2 separate regions of the Homo sapiens genome follow, and region 2 is linked to region 1. The links come from fine-mapping of genetic effects on gene expression. A gene starts in region 1. The other region holds a variant in brackets. All regions are shown on one strand. Distances are between the middles of the regions.

What was found.
Region 2: its variant is fine-mapped to the expression of DUSP4 in whole blood (INTERVAL, PIP above 0.99). The same link has a PIP of 0.9 or more in blood mononuclear cells.

The regions. Positions count from the first base shown.
Region 1 is chr8:29,344,880-29,355,840 of GRCh38, reverse strand. It overlaps DUSP4 (dual specificity phosphatase 4), which reads left to right and starts at 5,157. Exons shown (of 4, transcript NM_001394.7): 1 at 5,157-5,995. The coding sequence starts at 5,563. It overlaps LOC124901924 (a long non-coding RNA gene), which reads right to left and starts at 4,867. Exons shown (of 2, transcript XR_007060876.1): 1 at 4,307-4,867. RefSeq lists silencers at 162-460, 4,650-4,789, 4,980-5,299, 6,870-7,039 and enhancers at 4,240-4,349, 4,390-4,459, 5,158-5,657, 5,980-6,129, 5,658-6,159.
Region 2 is chr8:29,464,162-29,475,122 of GRCh38, reverse strand. No RefSeq gene overlaps it. Among named protein-coding and RNA genes, the nearest start is that of LINC02948, 93 kb to the left of the region's middle. RefSeq lists an enhancer at 5,505-5,874. The variant A/G (reference allele first, on the strand shown) is at 5,533.

The sequences.
Region 1 (10,961 bases):
GCTTTTTGAAGGCACAGTGTTTTGGACAAATCTGTCCCCCTACTTCCCGCACCTCTTGCTGAGTCTAGCACGTTTGTTGAATGAATAAGAGAATCTGCACAGCTAGAGTGACCCCAAATAACCTAGTTTTGTTTTGTATTGTTTTGTTTGTTTGTCTTTTGAGATGGAGTCTCGCTGTCTCGCCCTGTCCAGGCAGGAGTGCAGTGGCCCAATCTTGACTCACTGCAACCTCTGCCTCTCCGGGTCAAGGGATTCTTTTGCCTCAGCCTCACGAGTAGCTGGGACTACAGGCACCCACCATCATGCCTGACTAATTTTTGTATTTTTAATGTTGGTCAGGCTGGTCTCCAACTCCTGACCTCAAGTGATCCGCCAGCCTCCCAAAGTGCTGGGGGATTACAGGCATGAGCCACCATCCATGCCCAGCCTCCGAGTTCATTTTTATCCCGTTTGGAGAAGTGTTTCTTTCCAAAATTTGTTTCTGAAATTTTGAAGACGTTTTATCAAAATGCTTGGGACGTTAGCACGTGACTAAACAAATAAATAAAAACTATGAGCTCTGCTGTCCATGAGTTTATATTCTAAAGCAGGGACAAGGAGGAGCTAGAGATCGTCCTTTATCTTATGGCATTATAGTGTGCTTGGCTCTTCAGAGGGCGAGATGGGAAACCTATGAAACTTGGACTCGGAGCTGAGAAGTCTTCTTCTGCTCAGAATCATACAGGGTCGGAAATAGACCAGACCTGAGAAACCATCCTGCCCAAACTCTTCATTTTGCAGGTGAAGAAAGTGAGGCCAAAGGAGACTGTCTTGCCCAAGGCCACCAAGCTAGATGGTGGCATAGCCTAGATTGAATAGTTTTAAAATAAAGCAGTAAATAAAGCAATGCATTAAAACCTTTCTGCAGAGACCCTGGGTTAGAAACTTAATCTTTTATTATTTTTTATTTGTATTTATTTATTTATTTTGAGATGGAGTTTTGCTCTTGTCGCCCAGGCTGGAGTGCAGTGAGGGGATCTCAGCTCACTGCAACCTCTACCTCCCGGGTTCAAGCGATTCTCCTGCCTCAGCCTCCAGTGTAGCTGGGATTATGGGTGCGCGCCCGTCATGCTGGCTAATTTTGTATTTTTAGAAGAGACAGGGTTTCACCATGTTGACCAGGCTGGTCTTAAACTCCTGACCTCAGGTGATCTGCCCACTTCGGTCTTCCAAAGTGCTGGGATTACTAGCGTGAGCCACCTCGCCTGGCCGATACATAGCCTTTTAAATCATTAATAAGTGCTAGAGTATCAAGCATAGAAAACAAAAAAGATCTGTAACAAAGTCAGGACTTAAAAAAAGAAATCCTCAGGCTATGTCTTTGAGAGTTTTTGGTTAGGTTCAGTGTGAACTTTGAAGACTTTCCTTCGCTTTCAGTCCTGACTTGATGGGCAGAGGTACGTAGGGAAGGACAGGCATTTCTCAATTCCATTTCTAAACGTTGCCTAAGAACACGCTGTGTAGACCACAGGCTTCTCTGCTTTCAGGAGCAGGAGAGGGTCTCCCAGTTCTTTTGAGCCTTCCCACTACCAGGGGGCAAGTTCCCTAATTAGTTGATCTAAGAAGCCTAACCAACAAGATCTGTGCAAAATGGATTATTCCTGTTCCAGTTCGACGTAATAGCAAGGCTGCCTCTTTGCTCAAGAAAGGAAAAGCCACAGGACTTTTCTTTCCATCACCACCTTAATTAATTCATTAATGATTTTTCAGGCAAGTTTTATTCAGGCACTTTGGGACAGAGCAGTGAGTCAGAGGTTGGCATCAAAACTAGAATAGAAGCTGTACTTCTCTCTGGGGATTCTACTCCGGGCTTTAGATTCCCCGATCATACAACTTCCTAATTGGAAAGAAATGTTCCTAAACAAGAGCAGGTGTTTTGCTGGAGCCTGACAGTGACTAATAAGGTCGGTCTAAGGACTGACTGATGAAAGAGAAGCTGGATTTACTTGTCACAGCGAATTTTTAAAAGTTCTTTCACCCCGAGGTTTACTGCTGAATATAAATAAAAGACCTCTCCTTGGGCAATCCCATCCCAATTCCTACAAATATGCCTTAGTTAATTAAATTAACTTTGAAATGACATTCCGTGTCTTGCTCCAAATTGCCTTTGTTTTCTCCAAGATCTGCTCATTGACAAGCTGTTTCACAAGGTTCCTGTTTAAAATGGTTATGTTTCGTCCACAGACTGCAGACGAATTGGAGACAGGTTTTATCTATAGCCGGCATGGAGTAGCCCTCGCGTTGTACTCATTTAACTGTGGACCAATGGTTCACAAACATACAATTAAAAAATATATATCTAGGGTGTTTACACAGTATCCCGATAAATACAATATGGTAACTTAAATCTCCTTTGCTGAAATTCACACAACTGAAGGCCAATTCCTGAGTTGGCAATGGGGTGTGGATTTTAAAAATTAGTCTTTTTTAAAAATCAGGCCTTCGCTTTCGCAATTCAAGTGGCTCTCGGCTTAAACACATTAAGTCCCAAGCTGTGACTCCCTTCCAGTGAACAGCCGCGTAGGCGCGGGCACGCACACGTGGACACACACACTCACACGCGCCCTCCCACACCCCTTTCCGTGTGAATCGCCTGCGGGATTTAGGGCTTCTCCACCAGCGATTACTGTCAGGTGCAGAAAGCAAGCCTCTTTGTTCTATGGGCATTTTCCTCCCCCTGGATTTGACTGTTATTTACTGGCCACGTGAGCGCCAGGCGCGGGTCCGGCGGGGAAGGCGACCCCAGAACAGGGTAGACAAAAGCTGGCCCAGAGCGCGACCCGTGCGCCCCAGGGACGTCTCCCCAGCTCCTGCGACACGCGTGAAATTGGCCCGGACCTGCCTCCTGAGAGGCTTTTCCCAGAAATGTCTTGTTAAAGCCTTTGTAAAGGAATCAGTGTTTACTTGCGCCGGGAGAGCTCCGGCCCTGGGTCCTGGCAGGCGGCGGATTTCTGAGCTGCTGGAGAGCAACCCGGGAAAGCAAAATCAGCCTTGGACTGTCGGGGCCCCTGGGGCTCCTTGCTCCTTATCGAAAGCGAGTTATTAGATAGACCCCCACAGTCCCATTCAGCAGAATGGGAAACTGGACTCAGACACCTTTTGCCCTCCCCACAGGGAGGCCACGCCGTGCGGCTTTGACCACTGATCTCCCACCCGGAGTGCCCGACGCCCAGGGTCCTGCCACCGGGCAGCCTCGGTCAGTCCACAGTTGTGGCTCCTTCCAGGGCCTGGACTAGGGTGAGCACAAGCCTTGAGCGCAACATTTAAGAAGGGCGCCGAAAAGTCAGTAATCAAAAGAAATATCTTGATGCAATGCCTCTTTAAAAGAAAAAAAAATGCAAAAAATCCATGATGAATAAAATACTAAATTTTAAAAAGAGAAAGGATCCGTGCAGTGCCATCGTAAGCCATTTTGGAGCCCGGAGCAAAAGGAAATATCACCTTGCCCAAGCGGTGCCCCTACAGCTCATCCGAGTAGGGCCCGGGGGTCGAGGCATTCGGGGCCCAGTGGGGGACGAGGCCAGTCGAAGGTCTCGGAAGTGGAGGCTCCGCCGAGCTCCGGTCGGGGAGTGCAGGGATGGCCCCCGGGACCGGAGGTGAGAGCTCGGGAAAGCCGCTCCGCCCGGAACAAAGGCATGGGGAGAGGGTGAGCTTGGGCGGGAGAGACCCGGCGGGTACCGGTGCCCTCGCTGCCTGGGTCGGGCTTCCACGCGCGCCCCGGAATGGAATACGCTACTCTGCAGCCTCCGAAACTGCGAGCGAGTCCTGTAACTCCCTTGCTCTGTGATTAATTCTCACTAACAAGACTTGGCAAGATGTCGGGCGAATGATTTTTGGCTTCTGCACGGTCCCCACCGCGTGCGTGCACAAACCCCCAGCCAAAAGCCGCCTCTGGGAAATTAAATGCAAAAGAGAAATGGGGATGGGGAGGGCTGCTACGTGACCAGGAAAAAGGGATGCCCAGAAACATGAATCGGACCCAGAGCTGCTGAAGTCCTTTCAAAAGGTCATTCTTTGCGGGTACATTTTCCAGGGTCCAGCTCCGCAACAAATGTGGACCCTGTCATTTCCTGAAAGGATAATTCACAACTATGCAAGATAGGGTGAAGACGTTTCCCAAACCCGAAAACCTTGTTTTTCCCCCGACCAGGGTTAAATAAACATCTTTTAGGAAGCGTGGACAGGAGCGCAGCCTGCTCTCCTCCCTCGGAACACCATTCCGGCAATTAATGCCTCCCTTTGGGTAGTAAAGCAACAAACCCCACACCTCACTCCGATCCTGGGCTTCGGGCGGGAGGACTTTCTCTTTCATCTTCCAAGCAGGGGGTTGCCCACGTTCTTGGGGAAGCTATAAAACTGATTTAATGGCTTTAGATGAAAATCGATCACGCTAATGCATACGCTAACGTCTCAGGAATCGCATATTCAGAAAGGACTGGCCGGGCCGAAAGCGCACGGGGAGTCTGGGGCTAGGAGGTGTCAGGCCCCGCTGGGTGGGCAGCAGCGCTCCGGTCCCCTCTCCACTTGGGTAACCGGGAAAAACCTACGGGGCTGTCACGCGGGGAAGCGCGAAGGTGCCAAGGGATGAAAGCTCAAACCCGAGCCCTGGCCTCCTCAGCCGGCTATTTCCTTTGGCGCCGCCCGCCTAGCGGCGGGGTGCAGCGGCGGCACAGGTGCCGGTGTCGGGCTGGAGGCGCGGCGCAGGCTGGGCCCGCGGGTAGACGGCGAAAGGCGCCGCGCGCTCCATTCACAAAGTCCGGGCGCTGCCCGCCGCTGGCGGCGGGTCGGAGGCCGCCTCCCTCTTCCTCTCGGCCTCGGTTTTATGAATGGGCCTGATGGCGAGCACCCGGCGCCCTGTTTACTCCGCTCTTTGTGACGTCGAGTTCCCGTGACCGGGAGCCAGCGGCCGCGCTCCATTCAAGCTCCGGGGAGGGGGTGGGAGGAGGGGCCCGGAGGGGGCGGGGAGTCAGCGCGGGGGGCGGGGGACAGCGCGGGGGGCGGGGGACGGCGCGGGGCCCGGAATGGAACGGGGCGGGGCCTGGCGGGGTAGTACCTAGCGCCCCCTCCCCCGGGAGCGCGGAGGAGCATTAATAAACCTCTAAGCCGAGGAGAAAACTCTGGCTGGGGCAGTGCGCTGAGCGCCGGAGGAGCGTAGGCAGGGCAGCGCTGGCGCCAGTGGCGACAGGAGCCGCGCGACCGGCAAAAATACACGGGAGGCCGTCGCCGAAAAGAGTCCGCGGTCCTCTCTCGTAAACACACTCTCCTCCACCGGCGCCTCCCCCTCCGCTCTGCGCGCCGCCCGGCTGGGCGCCCGAGGCCGCTCCGACTGCTATGTGACCGCGAGGCTGCGGGAGGAAGGGGACAGGGAAGAAGAGGCTCTCCCGCGGGAGCCCTTGAGGACCAAGTTTGCGGCCACTTCTGCAGGCGTCCCTTCTTAGCTCTCGCCCGCCCCTTTCTGCAGCCTAGGCGGCCCGGGTTCTCTTCTCTTCCTCGCGCGCCCAGCCGCCTCGGTTCCCGGCGACCATGGTGACGATGGAGGAGCTGCGGGAGATGGACTGCAGTGTGCTCAAAAGGCTGATGAACCGGGACGAGAATGGCGGCGGCGCGGGCGGCAGCGGCAGCCACGGCACCCTGGGGCTGCCGAGCGGCGGCAAGTGCCTGCTGCTGGACTGCAGACCGTTCCTGGCGCACAGCGCGGGCTACATCCTAGGTTCGGTCAACGTGCGCTGTAACACCATCGTGCGGCGGCGGGCTAAGGGCTCCGTGAGCCTGGAGCAGATCCTGCCCGCCGAGGAGGAGGTACGCGCCCGCTTGCGCTCCGGCCTCTACTCGGCGGTCATCGTCTACGACGAGCGCAGCCCGCGCGCCGAGAGCCTCCGCGAGGACAGCACCGTGTCGCTGGTGGTGCAGGCGCTGCGCCGCAACGCCGAGCGCACCGACATCTGCCTGCTCAAAGGTAAACGAGGGCTCCGGGCGCTAGCTGGAGTCGGGGAGATGGAGGGGGTCTTGGCGGCCTGCGCCTTATTGGCACGGGAAGGAGTCCCCGGCGTGATTCGTGGTTGCGGGGATCCCCGCGCGCCCCTTTGTGTGTGTTGGTGTGTAGGGGTTTGCAAGGTTTCTGTGCAAGTGCGAGGTTCAAGTCCTCAGGGAAAGTGCGGACGGGTTTCTCCGGTCACCTGCAATTCCGCACCGTCCTAGCGAGGCCCCGTTTATTGACATTAACGGTCCTAGCCTCGAGGATGAAGCGACTCCTCTGCGCGGTCCATCTTGAGTCCCGGGAACAGTTTCCAAGTACCACGGGGCGCGTGGGGACAAGATAGGCCTGTTGGTTTGGCGTGCTGGGGCCCTACACTGAGCCGGACCGGGAGAATCCCAGAGGTGGAGAAAAGGTGAAGAGGGGTGGGCGCCGAGGTACAATTGGCCTTGCCAGTTTCACTGAAAACAAGACCCTGGCAAATGCAGAAAGGGAGATTGGGTTGCACACACTGTGTAGAGCGATCTGTATCTGCGTTCCCGCTGCCCAACTCCAAGCTCAGCTTGGAAGGTGGCCAATCCCCGTCCCGGGCTAGATCCAGGCTCTGGGAGCGGGAGGCTGAAGGACTGGGTATCTGGGGGACGCCGGGCGGAACCGGTCCTCTAGCGCCTGCAAATCCGGGCAGCGGAGAATGATCACCTTTTGTTCAGCCCGGATTTTCGACTATCTGATGGCGGCGCGTGCCGGATTTTAGCGAGCCCTGGCGAAACTCTCGGCGGCGAGACTGTCTTGTCACATTTGGTAGTCGGAAATCCTGGAAAAATCGCGTGCTGTCCGAGTCCCTGGAGGGACCTGGCGCCCGCCACACCTGCAGGGCAGGGTGGGTCCGCGGCCCTCGGGCTAGGGAGCGGGCAGGGCGCGTGGGGTCCGGGCGCCCCCCGCCGCGCTGCGCCTCCGCCTCCCGCCGCCGCATTCCGCGCATTCTTCCGCGCGGGTAGGGTCTGCGCTTCCGAGCCCGGTAGGCAGTTCAGACCCCCCCACACCCATCAAAGAGCCGCTCCTCCCCCCCGCAGGCGCCTTCGCCGCCTCCCTCCCTTCCTTTCCTTTCCGCTCCTCTTCCGACCTGTCCACCCGGGAGGAAGGGAGCTGGAAAGGGGGCGGAAACCTCTCCCCTCCAAAAAGCACAACAAAACTGTTCAGTGCGGAGGAGCCGGGTTCGCCCCTGCCGGACAGCGGGGGGCTTTGTTCCCCGCAGTTGTTTCCTGCCCATTTGACCTGTCAGCTGCTGGGGAAACGCTGCTGTTGACCTTTGGTTGAACTGCTAAGGCGATTTTGCTGATTTTTCTTTCTTTTTCCGCGAGGGCTGTCTTTTGCTCCTCCAAATGAGCCCAGTCCCCCTCCCTTCTCCCCAAAGCGCTCCAAGAGAAAGTGCCAGGAAGGGGCTTGTCCCGGAAGGCCTGGCGGCTGAGCGGGGCCAGGTCCTGGTTAGGCCACCAGGGTGGGCGTCCGCGCCATTGTTTGAGCTTGTCGGCGCTGGTGGGAGAGATGAGGGCAATTCCTCTGGGACGCAAGTCCCCTCGAATGGCCGGGGCTGGCCGGGATGTTCCCCGCACGGCGCTGCCCTCGAGTCCCCCCGATGGAGAGCGCGGGCGCGCCTTCCTTCGCTGGCGTCCAAACCCGGGACCAGCTAGAACACAGCAGGGCTGGGACTGGGTTCCAGCCCCACGTGGAGTCTGGATTTGTTTTGTTGTGTTTTGCTTTCCTTCCTGGAAGAAATCCCGAGGGGACCGCCCTAGAGCGGCAGCTCCAGGACCTCGGCCCTTGGGCTTCCGGGGGTGCAGCCACTTAGGCCCCGCTCCCGGGGAGAGAGGGATTATTTTTTAAGATTTATCCCCAGGGCGCGCGGCATTTCCCTGTCCCTCGTGAATCCCGTTGAGAGTCCTCCCTCCCCAACCTCCTCCATTTCCCCAGCCAGACCGATTCGAGAGCCCTGGAGATTCTGGGCGAGGCTAGTGACTGGGTAGTACAGGCCTCTAGGTAAAATGACAGCCCTCTGGTGGGTGGCGAGGTGCCTGGCCAACATAAGAGAAGTACTTTAAGGGCTGTTTCCTCCTGGAGCCTGCACTGCCTCTCGTAGTCGGCCCCGACGCGGGCAGGGAGAATCATCTTCTGCATCTCAAAGTGGACATCCTTGCAGATGGAGGTGTGCAGGCCTGGGCCACAGATTTAGCTTCGGTCTCTTCTAGAATAGCCCCTCCTAGCCAGAAGTTCAGCTTCTGCTTCCAAAGGGAGCCTGCCCTTGGAAGCAAGCACCTAAAATTGAGAGGTGGGGGAATCTTCCAGCCTGCTCTGTTGTGGTGAACATCGTTGAGGTTAACTGGGCCCTATTCGGTTTAGCTTAGCTGATTTTGACATATGTGTTCAGCAGAGGCCATCTTTAACCCAGTTCCTCTTCTTCCTCTTTGCCCTCTAATGGAAAGGCATCCCTAGAGAGGTCAGAAGGAAAAAGTCAGTATCTGCTCCCACAGCTCTGCGGGAAGGGGCTGGGGAAGGAAATCAAGGTGTCTCCCAGGTCTCCAGATACACCTCCCTTCCATGCCTGGAAGCCAGTGCAGTGGAGCAAATGTGGTTTCCCGGGAGGGGGCTCTGGGGCAGAGACCTAAAGGGGAATTTTGAGAAGCAAAGGAAGAAAAAGCCCCTTAGATTATCTTTAGTAAATGCCTGAATTGGTGAAGGGTTGGAGAATTTGTTTCCTACTGGAGTAATTCATTTTATTTTCCAGCGAGGGAATGTATGTATGTCTCATTTCAGGTGTGCCTGTGCGTGTCTGTAAAGCAGGACAGGAAGCCAGTGGAAGGCTTGATGGTTGGTGTCTGCCATTCTTGGAGGGGTTAGGAGAAGCAGTAAAAGCAACAAGAGTATTTTCAGAAGTGATAGTAGCATGTCCAGCCAAAGCTATCTAATTCTATTAATTGCATTTTAAAATTCAGTTTTTCTATTTCTGCCACGTTGAAGGGTTACTTCAACCACGTTGAACTGGTTACTCCATGCAGGTGGCAGGAGGTAAACTTCGCTTAATATCAAGAAAGTACAGCCTAGCCTTTACATTTCCTCAGATTACCCGACTTTTGCTAAAAGCAATAACGAAAAATCTAATGTTTTCTATCTTTGCTAGTAAAGGATTTCCAGTGGGGTAATTTTTTTAAAACTCATTTAATTTAAAATCTTGTAAGGCATTTTTAGAGTCAGTTTGGAAATTTTAGTTTTTCAGATTTTATCACAATACACTTCTTGAAATCCCTTTCTCTCTCATTCGTAAATCCTTGGATTAGAGTTTGAGACTCCCCTGGTCATTAGAGAAAGACAAAAAGAGCTTTTTCTTACCCTATTCTTTGCCTTTATTAACCCCAAATAACAAAATAATCTGTTATGCAAAAAGATTGCAGGTATAAAAACATTACCTTCCTTTCCACCTACCTAAAACTTCCCTCAGCCTTTGTCAGTTCTAATTTAAAAGCTGTCCTGGAGCTGTTGGAGAAATGGGGAAGATCATCTAGATATTCCAGTTTCTCCTTCCACTCACCCTATAGTACCGGATAGCATCCAATAGCCCAGGGCCTGACCATACAGCCCATGATATTACCCTTTCTGTAGAAAACAGTCACTAAGGCCACTGATGAATGTGGGGGGAGAGGAACACAATTAACAGCTCTGGAAACTCTGGTGACATTTTTCTGTTTTTTCTCTCTCTAGCCCCACCATTGCTCTCTCTGTCTTCAGTTCCCCAGGAGGGCAATGGCATCAAACAGCACAGCTCTGGGGGATGTCAATATTGCATACCTTTTCTACCTAAAGGGAAAATGACTCGCTTTTCTGCTTGCAAATATGGTAGTTTCTGCTTACAAATGTAATACAATGCCCATGACAGCCAAGGACTGGAAGCATAAGTTGCTAGGTCTTACAGGTGATTTTTTACAATGAAGCAAACTCACTATGTTAGACACCATTTACATTGGATGTCTCCAACTAACAAAAGTAACTAAAGACAGATGTAGGTGTAAATTGAGAGTGAAATTTGACCCTTTAGACCGTCACAACTTCCTTGGGCTTATCCTGGGTGCTTATAGGAGAGGTGGGCTCCACCCACAAAAATGGACTGCTCAGAAAAATGAGGGAGAGAGAAAGGGTGGCCACTTTCCCGAGCCAAGAAATTCCTTGAAAAAAAATCAGAACATCTGAAACCAGAGAGCCGATTTCCTTACCGGGAGGCAGTTCCTGGCTAACGAAGAGGAAGCACGATGGGAAGAAAAGTTCACTCCAACGGAAGCCAGTTTGCTGAACATAGCAGATCGCCCAGGAGGACTGGGAGAGACTGCAAACCAGTTCGAGCCCCCAGCATGGCGTTAGGTGTCAGCCAGCTGGCAGGAAGGTCCAGGTGTCTGTGTTCAGAGTCTCAAGGTGAGAAGTTCACTTAGTTGGATTTTAAATACAGCTCAGCATTTACATAGGTGCTTACTAAGTCAACAGTCACATAAAGTAGAGTTCCCAAAGGCAAATGGCCTTCAAACAACCCCAGACTTTCTTGCAAGAGCATGACTTTTCTGGCAAGAGCAAGGCCATGAGCCCTGCCTGGGACCTGGCACTATTCTGAGTGTTGGGGGCATAATGGGGAAAAAGTGGCAGCCACATTAAGATTCATGACCAAGGCCGGGTGTGGTGGCTCACACCTGCAATCCTAGCACTTTGAGAGACTGAGGCAGGCAGATCACTTGAGGCCAGGACAACATGGCAAACTTGGTCTCTACAAAAAATGCAAAAATTAGCCGGGCGAGATGGCATGTGCCTGTAATCTCAGCTACTCAGGAGGCTGAAGCAAGGAGATTGCTTGAGCCCAGGGAAGTCAAGGCTACAGTGAGCCATAATCGTGCCACTGCACTGCAGCCTGGGT
Region 2 (10,961 bases), 120 kb before region 1:
AGTTTGTCTTAAATCCATCATTCTATAATCTGCTCCTTAGAAGGGGTGGTAATCACAATCATAGATCCATGGCTGATAGAGATGGAAGGAATCTTCTAGAACATCTGGTCTAATGTCTCTTTTTCTTTTTGGGGGGACAAATTCTTGCTCTTGTTGCCCAGGCTGGAGTGCAATGGCACAATCTTGGCTCTCCTCCACCTCCCGGGTTCAAGCAATTCTCCTGCCTCAGCCTCCCGAGTAGCTGGGATTACAGTGGGATGTGCCACCATGTCTGACTAATTTTTTGTATTTTCAGTACTGACGGGGTTTCTCCACGTTGGTCAAGCTGGTCTCGAACTCCCAACCTCAGGTGATCCACCCGCCTCGGCCTCCCAAAGTGCCGGGATTATAGGCATGAGCCACCATGCCCAGCCTAATTTCTTATCTTTACATTGAGGATACTCAGTTGTGAAAAGAAACAAAGTGATGTGCCCAAGATTACAGTGCTCAGAGGCAGCACTACAGGAAAACCCACAGCTCCCGACCCCAGGTGGGTGAGGACTCTGAACTATAGCCACACCACTTTCTAAAAGCCCTCACTCTTCCCTGTACCCCCGATCATGACTCTCCACCTGCCTAGTCCTTCCCGTCTATCTTTTATGCATGGAGGCTGGGGACTGACCCTTCACAAAATGGAAGCATTTTGAGATTATATTTTCAAATCTAGAAACATCATTTTAAGTTCCTAGGCTTACAGCCAGATTTTCCCACTGAATAGTACAACTGGATAACTTGCATCCCATTTGCCAGACTTTCTTCGATAATCTCCTTTCCTCTGCCCTTTATTTGGGAGGAAAATAAGTCAGAAAGAAGGAACAAAGAAGTTCTATGTGCACGGAAAAATACAGAATCCATCCCTGGCCATCAAGGCCTGGCTGAAGCCCAGGAGAAGGCTGAGAACTGTTTTAAAGAAACAGGCTCATCTAGAGGGATTCTCAGGCTGACAGGACTTGTTCAGGGTGTGAACTGAAGATCTAGCCTTTGTGGGTAAATTGCTTAGGTCAATGAAGTATGATGGAAAATAATGTCACACTTCATTGTGATAATCCCAAATTGGGAGAGCTCTTAGACATGGCCCAACACAACTCCTTGCACTGTATAATAGATCCTTAGCACTCTGCTGCATGATGTTCTCAGTTGCAGCTGTTGACACATGATCTCAAAATCCATGACATACTCTTTTGTAATTATGAGGGAGTACAAGTTTGAATCCAAGTTTTGAGCCAGTGGTGAAGGAGCAGGTCAGTTGGCTAAAGAGTTGGCCTTGCTAAATGCCCAACTCACATACTTTGCTGGGGCCCTAATATTTTTCTTCTGACCCAAATTTCTAACATTAAATTCTGTTATAACGGTATCTGTATGTGTGGGGATTTCCAAAGTATCTAGTAAGTACTAGTAAATACTCTAGTAAGTATTTTTCCCAAATATCAAAGATTTACTCTGTAAAACCTCTCGCCATGGAATCCCTCAGAGATACTCATTCAGCCTCCGGTTGAAGACTGAAACAGTGAAATCTTTGACCCACTAGCCTTAAAATTCTTTCATCATTCTCTTAGCAGTTTACCTGCTGCCCCTCTTAGTCTTCAGCTATATTCCTTTTCTTTCATTATTGCTTTTTTCCTCACTTGTCTTACCCAATAGTCTTTCACATTGCCACTGGAGGGTCCTTTCAGTGCTTCACAAGTATGGTGGAGGGTCTCAGCTTCCCACAGCAGAGATTCAGATGCATATAGCTTGTTGAGTTAGGTGGCATTCCATACCATAGTATCCTCTATTACCCACTGAGTTCCATCTAGTTAGAAGCACACTAGGGAAAAAAATTGTGATTATGTCTGCATCCGTGGTGTGAGAGGCAGCCCCACTGAGGAGGCCACAGGTGCCTGGGGAGAGCAGCCCTACAAGCAGCAAGCTGTGGTTCTGGCCAGAGTGGGAAGAGAATCCCAAGAGACATATACCCCAGAGGCCAACACAGAGTGGTGGGACAAGAGGCTGCCAAAGATCATTGTCTACATTAAAGATACCTCCAGGGAACTCCCAGGCATTCTACAGGAAGGAGAAGACTAACCTTGAAAGGCTCTTGGGGTTCTACAGTTGACAGGGTGGAAAGATCCAGCATAATTGGGGCCTGGATAGTACTGTGATGTAATCTTATTTTTCTTAACATTTGTGAGGTCAGGCAACATCGAGTTTACCCACCCAGGAAAGGGTTTGTAGACAGTTTCTCAACCATTCATAGAAAGGCGAGTACCTTCATCTCTCTGTCAACCACTGTGTATGGTTTGCACAAATACAGCCATAGAAGAAGTAAATCATAGAAAACAAGCAGGTGTGTAAACTCTTGTTGGGCACCATGGAAAACGTGGTTTGCCACAAGATAGTGGGGCTCAGAAATGATCCCACCAAGAGATATTTAAAACTGGGTGATGCGTGGGCTGGGTGCTGTTTTCAGTGTTTTCTCATTCAGAGGAGCAGCATTTTTGCCTACCTGTGAACTCAGACCCATCAAACCTCTAGTTTACAAATCAAATCCCATGCACTCTGGAATGGACCTGTCTGTCAGTGATGTCAAAGATGTCCCTGAGGGCTTTCAACAAGGTGATGTCACCTTAATGTTTTCGATTTAACACATTTCCTTTCCATTGACTCAGCCCTGACACTGTCTTACGTTCTATGATGAGAAAGCAGGGGAGCAGAGGCCAAGGCTATCTCTTCCTCCTCTGAGGATTGAGGGGACTGTGTATGTGCCAAAAAATAAAAAATAAATGCTGCTTGGCATAGTAGCACGCACCTGTGGTCCCAGCTCCTCGGGAGGCTGAGGTGGGAAGATCATTGAGCCCAGGAGTTCGTGGCTACGGTGAACTATGATTACATCACTGCACTCCAGCCTGGGTGACAGAATGAGACTGTCTCTAAAAAGTATTTTTTATAAGTAAAAATAATAGTAACAAATAAATGTTTATTGTTTTAAAAAAAACTGAAGAGTATAGACATATATAAAAATTAAAATTAAGGCCAGGCACAGTGGCTCACGCCTGTAATCCCAGCACTTTGGGAGGCCAAGTTGGGCGGATCACAGGTCAGGAGTTCGAACAAGCCTGGCCAATATGGTGAAACCCTGTCTCTATTAAAAATACAAAAATTAGCTGGTCATGGTGGCAGGCTCCTGTAGTCCCAGCTACTTGGTAGGCTGAGGCAGGAGAATCGCTTGAACCTGGGAGGCAGAGGTTGCAGTGAGCCAAGATCATGCCACTGCACTCCAGCCCGGGTGAGAGAGCGAGACTCCGTCTCAAAAATAAATAAAAAAATAAAATAAAATAAAAGTCCAATATTTTCCAATAACCCCACCCAAATGCAGACAATTCAGACCCCTAAGGTAGACACTGTTAAGAGATTGGGATGTGTGTTTTTATTTTCTAAGAATATACAAGTACTCCCCACCAACACATCAAAAAAATGTAGTCACACTAAACACATAAAGTGGACATCCTACTGTTTTCTTTTTTCTTTCCTTTTTTTCTTTTTCTTGTTTTTTTTTTTTTTTTTTTTTTTGAAACAGAATCTGGCTCTGTCACCCAGGCTGGAGTACAGTGGCACAATCTCGGCTCACTGAAACCTCCGCCTCCCAGGTTCAAGCAATTCTCCTGCCTCAGCCTCCTGAGTAGCTGGGACTACAGGCGCACACCACCACACCTGGCTAATTTTTGTATTTTTAGTACAGACGGGATTTTACCATGTTAGCCAGGCAGGTCTGGAACTGCTGACATCAGGTGATCCGCCTGCATCGGCCTCCCAAAGTGCTGAGATTACAGGCGTGAGCCACCGCACCCAGCCCATCCTACTGTTTTCAATCAAACTCTGTCTTGGACAGCTCTCCATGTCAGTATCTACAGAGTCTCCTTATTATATTTTTTAATAGCTGCATGGCTATCCCATTCTATATATGAACCATATTTATTTAACCTATCTTTTATTAATAGACATTTAAGTTATTTTGAGTTTTTTGTTATTACACGGAATGCTGCAATACATATCTTTTGTACAGTTATCCTTGGAGATGTGTATAATTTATTTCTATAAAATAAATTTCCTGAAGTAAAATTGCTGGATCAAAGGTGTCTTAGTCCATATGTACTTCTATAACAAAATACCTGAGACTGGGTGCCATGGTTTGACTGTTTATCCCCCTCCAAAACTCATGTTGAAATACATTGCCAATGTAATTGTATTGGGAGATGGAGCCTTTAAGAGGTGATTAAGACACTAAGGCTCCACCCTCATGAGTGGGTTTAACTATTTTTTTTTTTTTTTGAGGCAGGGTCTTGCTGTGTTGCCTAGGCTGGAGTGCAGTGACACGATCATGGCTCATTTCAGTCTCAACATCTTGGGCTCAATCGATCCTCACACCTTAGCCTCACAAGTAGCTGGGACTACAGGTGCTCACCATCATGAATGGCTAATTATTTTATTTTATTTTATTTTATTTTATTTTATTTTATTTTATTTTTATAGAGACAGGGTCTTGCTATGTTGCCCAGGCTGGTCTCAAACTCCTGGGCTCAAGCAAACCTCCCACCTCAGCCTCCCAAAGTGCTGGGATTACAGACATGAGCCACTGCACCTGGCCTAATACCTTAGTAAAAGGACTTTCAACAGTAGGCTGTTTCACTATTCTGCTATGTGAGGGACAGTGTTTCTCCATTCGGGAAGATGCAATGCTCCAGGCACCATCTTGGAAGCAAAGACCAAGCCTTCACCAGACACCAAAACTGCCAGTGCCTTGATCTTGAACTTCCCAGCCTTCAGAACTGTGAGAAACAAACTTCTAATGTTTACAAATCACCCCGTCAGTGGCATTTTGCTATAGCAGCACAAAACAGACTGAGACTTTGGGTAATTTATGAATAATAGAAAAGTATTTCTCACAGTTCTGGAGGCTGGGAAGTCCTAGATCAAGGCACTGGCAGGTGAGACTTGGTGTCTGGTGAGGGCTGCTCTCTGCTTCCAAGATGGCACCTTCTTGCTATGTTCTCACATGGTGGAAGGGGTAAACTCTATGTCATCAGACAGCAAAAGAGATAGAAGGGCCAGGCAGCTCTCTGAAGCCTCTTTTATAGGGGCACTAATTTCATTCACAAGGTCAGGGCCCCCATGGCCTATTCACCTCCAAAATGCTCCACCCCTTAATACTATCACACTGGGTCTTAGATTCCAACATGGATTTTGGACAGACACAAACATTCAAACCATAACAAAGGAGAGGTGTCTATTTTTTTACTTTGATGAATACTTTCAAGAGGCTGTACCAGTTTATAGTCCCTATGAGGTGGCTTTTACAGGTACAGAGAGTGTCATATTTGCAGTAGTGATGTGTCCCAACCTTGCTTACTTGGCTTAGCAGTACAATCCTGTCCTGATCAAGACTGAAAGAACTCTCTGGTGTCTTGGCCTTTGGAAATTCAGCAAGTTTACCTAGCTCTGCCAGTTTATTTATGG[A/G]CAAGGTGGTCCTCAGCAGTTACGGGGGTGGTGGTGTTTCAGAATGACAGAAGTTTGACACAGTTGGGTCCTTAGGGAGATAATTGAATCAACCACCTCATTTGGCAGCTGAGCAAATGGAGCTGTGGGTGGATGCTGTCTCTGGGTGCATGTCACCCTGTCCCCATCCTCCTGCAACGTGGGTGTGCAACAGTCATGCTCAGAATTTCTGGGTCTTTCCAGCGAAACCTCATGGGGGGAAAACATGCTCTCAGAAGTGCAGCTGCCACTAAAGGTTTGAGAGATGTTCTCAAAATGTACACCATCCCCAGCTGGATATGTAGTACCTGTCTGGTATGATCATAATGATAAGAGTATATTTGTTGAACAACAGATTGAAGTAGAAACTACTTTGTGTGGCATGACTCACCCTTCAGCATGTCATCTAAGGGGAGTATCTCCCATCCAAACCTTCCTGCTTCAGCCCTTAAAGTTGGAACTTCTTCCCTTTCAAAAGACCCTTGCAGAAGTAGGAGAGTAAACATCTACCCATGTTTTCAACTACCAATTTTTCCAACTCTCTCACTCCTCAACAAATCAGGAAGCCTGGTGTCTCTGAGTGGCGTCTCTGAGTGGTCAGATTGGGAAGGAGGAACAGCCAAACCTAGCCCCCTGTCTAGGAAGAGTCTGAAGGGGTCATCGAGCTCTGACTATGGGTACGCATCGGAGTGGGGATGGATGGGTAACTTGATTTGAGCTCATGGTGGCTGTAGTTCCAAGCTGTGTCCTTAGCATAGCTCATCAGTAAGGTAATATTTTCATCTGACCCCTGTTTCTATATCTTGACTGATGCAGAACTCACAGGAAGAAAGGGGTTTTATTTATTGGCTCTCTTTTATCCACAGCATCCTCCCTCAAAGACTCTGGGCCTAGAAGCTCAGGAAATAAGTGCTCCATGGTTTTCTACATGCAGTAGTGCTGGGCCACAGGTCCCCCATTCTCTTTAACTTCAAGGATCAGGCATCAGGTTGAATTGGGTCTCTCAAGTGTGTTCAGTTAGGTGGTACCCCTTTCACCTAGACGGGTAGGATTAGGAGCTAGGAACATCCTGGAACAAATGTAGGCCTATTAACAAGGTGGGCAGAGGTGCCAGCAAAGACAAACTGCAAATAAGACTTGTGAGACCAAATACACACACACACACACACACACACTTGTGGTAGTGGTAGAAAGAGAAAGAAATTAGAAAAGAAAAAAATATACAATTGAGCCATATGTCTTGAATTGTTAGGAATGTTCCCGGTATATCCTGGTGTTGGGGGAGATCCAAAAACAAATTGTAGACTAATGGGTTTACTTCAATTATATTTGGGTAAAAACAAACCAAAAAAGAATCTACCTATATGTAAATGTGCATTTGCATCTGTTTGAAAGAACAAGGGAAAAATTGGAAAGTCTACAACAGGTGTTAGCATTGGCAGCTCAAGGCGATGGGGTTGAAGATGAGGCTAAAGGAGATGATTTGCTTTTACTTTGTGTATCTTTATATGATTTCAATTGTTAGAATAAGCATGTATTACTTTTGTATTTAAAAATATTAATGGCTGGGGGCAGTGGCTCACGCCTGTAATCCCAGCACTTTGGGAGGCTGAGGTGGGTGAATCACCTGAGGTCAGGAGTTCGGGACCAGCCTGGCCAACATGGTGAAACCCCGTCTCTACTAAAAATACAAAAATTAGCCCGGCATTGTGGCCGGCACCTGTAATCCCAGCTACTCGGGAGGCTGAGACAGGAGAATCACTTGAGCCCGGGAGGCAGAGGTTGCAGTGAGCTGAGATTGTGCCATTGCACTCCAGCCTGGGTGACAAGAGCGAGGCTCTGTCTCAAAAAAAAAAAAAAAAGAAAAGAAAAAAGAAAAAGAAAAATATCAATCAATGAAGGAGATTTGGTGAAAATAAAAAGGAAATGTTAGTTTCAAATTTGTATGTTTCTCTGTATTTAGGGGTAAAGTAGAGAAGGAAAAAAAAGGAAAAGTGTAGAATAGTGTCTGTCATATGATCTATTATGTCAACAAAAAAAATTCATTCATATATACAATGGTATATGCATCAAAATATCTTTCAGTATCATTTAAAATATTTGTTGAAGTGTGTAATTCTTTCATTTGTCAAAAAATTGTATTTATAAATAATTTATAATACAAGGAAACAATGCTCATAATGTCTTAAACAAAAGAGTAGTATATGAAACTGCTTATAAAGTAAAATTTCAGTAGTGAGGTAACAGTAGGGGAAAATGCACAAAGGACTAGATGAGAAAAATGCCAAAATGTTAATAATGATGGTGAAATTATAGGTGATGTTTCTGAAAATTAAAAATGTGTCCTCTGACAGGGCACAGTGGCTCATGCCTGTAATCCCAGCACTTTGGGAGTCCGAGGCAGGCGGATCACCTGAGGTCAGGAGTTCAAGACCAGCCTGGACAGCATGGCAAAACCCCGTCTCTACTAAAAATACAAAAATTAGCCAGGCATGGTGGCGCACGCCTGTCATCCCAGCTACTGGGGAGGCTGAGGCATGAGAATCACTTGAACCCCGGAGGCTGAGGTCGCAGTGAGCTGAAATTGTGACACTGCACTCCAGCCTGGGTGACAGAGTGAGACTCTGTTTCAAAACAAACAAACAAAAAAAAAAGTGCCCCATGGGCATGACTTTACCTCTGTTTCAATGAGGTTGGGACAGGCTTTGCCTAGTGGTGGATGGAAGCAAAGTCTAGAACCACAGCATCTATTTGGTATCTCTCTAAGGTCACAAACGATGTCTTAGCCACAGGCTAGAACACGCAAGGGAGGGTACAGTAAATGCTATCCTGGCGGCACAAAGAGAAAGCAGCTACCAGCCTCTGCCCTAATGGCAGGATCAGTACCCTTTGCTCTGAGTACAAGCAACATAATTAAAGACAGAAAAGAATCCACTGGGCTTAATGGAAGTGAGAAATATTCCATGCAAAACAGCTGCCTGGATTCAAATTCCAGGTCTGCAATTTCGATCAGTTGTAAGCTTCTTAATCTCTCCGTATTTCCATTTTTTCATTGGTAAAATGGGAGTAATAATAATCTATGCCTCATAGGATTATTATGAGACCTTAATGAGTTAAGAGATGTGAACACCTAAAGATAATGTTTTTCAAATAGTGTTTGTTATTGTTATTAATATTATTATCCTTTTTACATTTAAAAATGATATTAATACTTGATTTGTCATCATTCCTTTAATAATTACTATGATTTATTGAGCACCTACTATATGCCAGGTACCATGAGGCATTTTGTTTACCTTAGATAGGATTCATCTTTAGGACTACCATTTAAGTATTTAATGTTACAAACCCCATAATAAAAAAAAATGAGGCTCTAAAACAACAGCTCCCAACGTTTTTAGCACCAAGGACCAGTTTTGTGGAAGACAATTTTTCTATGGACCGAGATGGGGGGGATGGTATTAAGATGATTCAAGCCAATTACATTTATTGTGCACTTTATTTCTATTATTATTACATTGTAATATATAATGAAATAATTATACAACTCACCATAACATAGACTCAGTGGAAGCCCTGAGCTTGTTTTCCTGTAACTAGATGGTCCCATCTTGGGGTGATGTGAGACAGTGACAGATCATCGCGCATTAGATTCCCATAAGGAGTCTGCAACCTAAATCCCTCACATGCACAGTTCACAATAGGGCTCGGGGTCCTGTGAGAATCTAATGCCGCTGCCGATCTGACACGAGGCGGAGCTCAAGCAGTAATGCTGGCAGTGGGGAGTGGCTGTAAATATAGATGAAGCTTGGCTCACAGGCCCCTGGCTCACTTCCTGTTGTGTGGTCCAGTTCCTAACAGACTATACAGACTGATACTGGTCCATGGCCCAGGGGTTGGGGACCCCTGCGTTAGAAGATTGTTTTTCTGGGGTCCATACCTAGTAGGTGGCAGAACTAGGATTCAGGTCCAAAAATCTCCACCTCTAAAGTCCAACAAGCTGTGTCTACCATCAACTGTGACTCCTGCACTATCTAAGGTATTTACACATATTCAAACACAGAACATCTCTTTGTCTTTACCATCTGTGAATTAACCAAGAAGAAGCCAGTTTTGCTGTCCTTACTTAAGAACCAAGTGATCTTCTGCCAGGTGTGCTCTCCAGCCACCCAGCCAAGCAGCCAAGGCAGCCTCAGCCCTATCCTTCCACGCGTGACTCGCTGGCACTTGGCTCAGAAGTGCAGGGAAGCTTCACTTTATTCCATTCTGCAAACTTGCAGATAAACTCAATATATCTAATGGACTCACTCTTTAAAATGTAATTTAAGTTCCTATTGGTTAAAAGAAAAAAGTTCACAGCAAACAGGCGATAAAAGAAAAAATAGGTAAGTTGCACTACATCAAAATTCAGAATTTTGAGCATCAAAGGATACTACCAAGAGAATGAAAAGGCAACCTACTGAATAGGAGAAAATATTGCAAGCCACATATCTGATAAGGCATGAATATCCAGAATATATAAAGAACTCTAAAATTCAACAACAAAAAAACTCAGTTCAAAAATGGGCAAAGGACTTTAACAGACATTTCTGCAGAAAAGATATACAAATTTCCAATAAACACACGATAAAATGTTCAACATCACTGGTCATCAGGGAAATGCAGATGAAAACCACAATGTGTAACCACCCAGACCCATTAAAATGGCTATAAACAAATGAACAAATGGAAAAAAAACAAGCTGTGGAGAAACGAGAATCCTTGTACATTGCTGGTGGGAATATAAAATGCTGCAACCGGAAATGAAATAAAACAATAGACACTGAGCCCCCCAAAAATGCTGCAGCCATCGTAGAAAATAGTTTCTCTGTTTCTTAAAAGGTTAAACATAGAACTATCTTTTTTTTTTTTTTGGTGTGGGGGGTGTTATAAATTTAATAAAGAGTTTAGCCAGAAGGCAAAATTTCATAATGAACAGAGGTTTTAAAAGAAGGAAACAAGTCACCCAATAATAAAATTGAAAAAGGCCATGGAAAGATAATTCATAGAAGAGAAAATCCAAATGTTTCACCAAGCATATATTAATGAAAACATGCTCTAACTCACTTGTGGTGAGTTATAAATAAGTAATAAATAAAATAAATCCAAGAGTCTGATTATGAAAGATTTTGTGTGTTCTTCAACTAGAACTATCATATGACTCAGCAATTCCACTCCTAGGTATAAATGCAAAAGAATTGAAAGCAGAGACTGGAGTAGATTGTTTGGTTATCAGAGTTCATAGCAGCATTTGTCACAATAGCTAAAATGTAGAAACAACCCAGGTAACTATCAACAAATGAATGGATAAACAAAATGCCATATAAACATGTAATAGAATATTATTCAACCACAAAAGTGATTCGAATTTT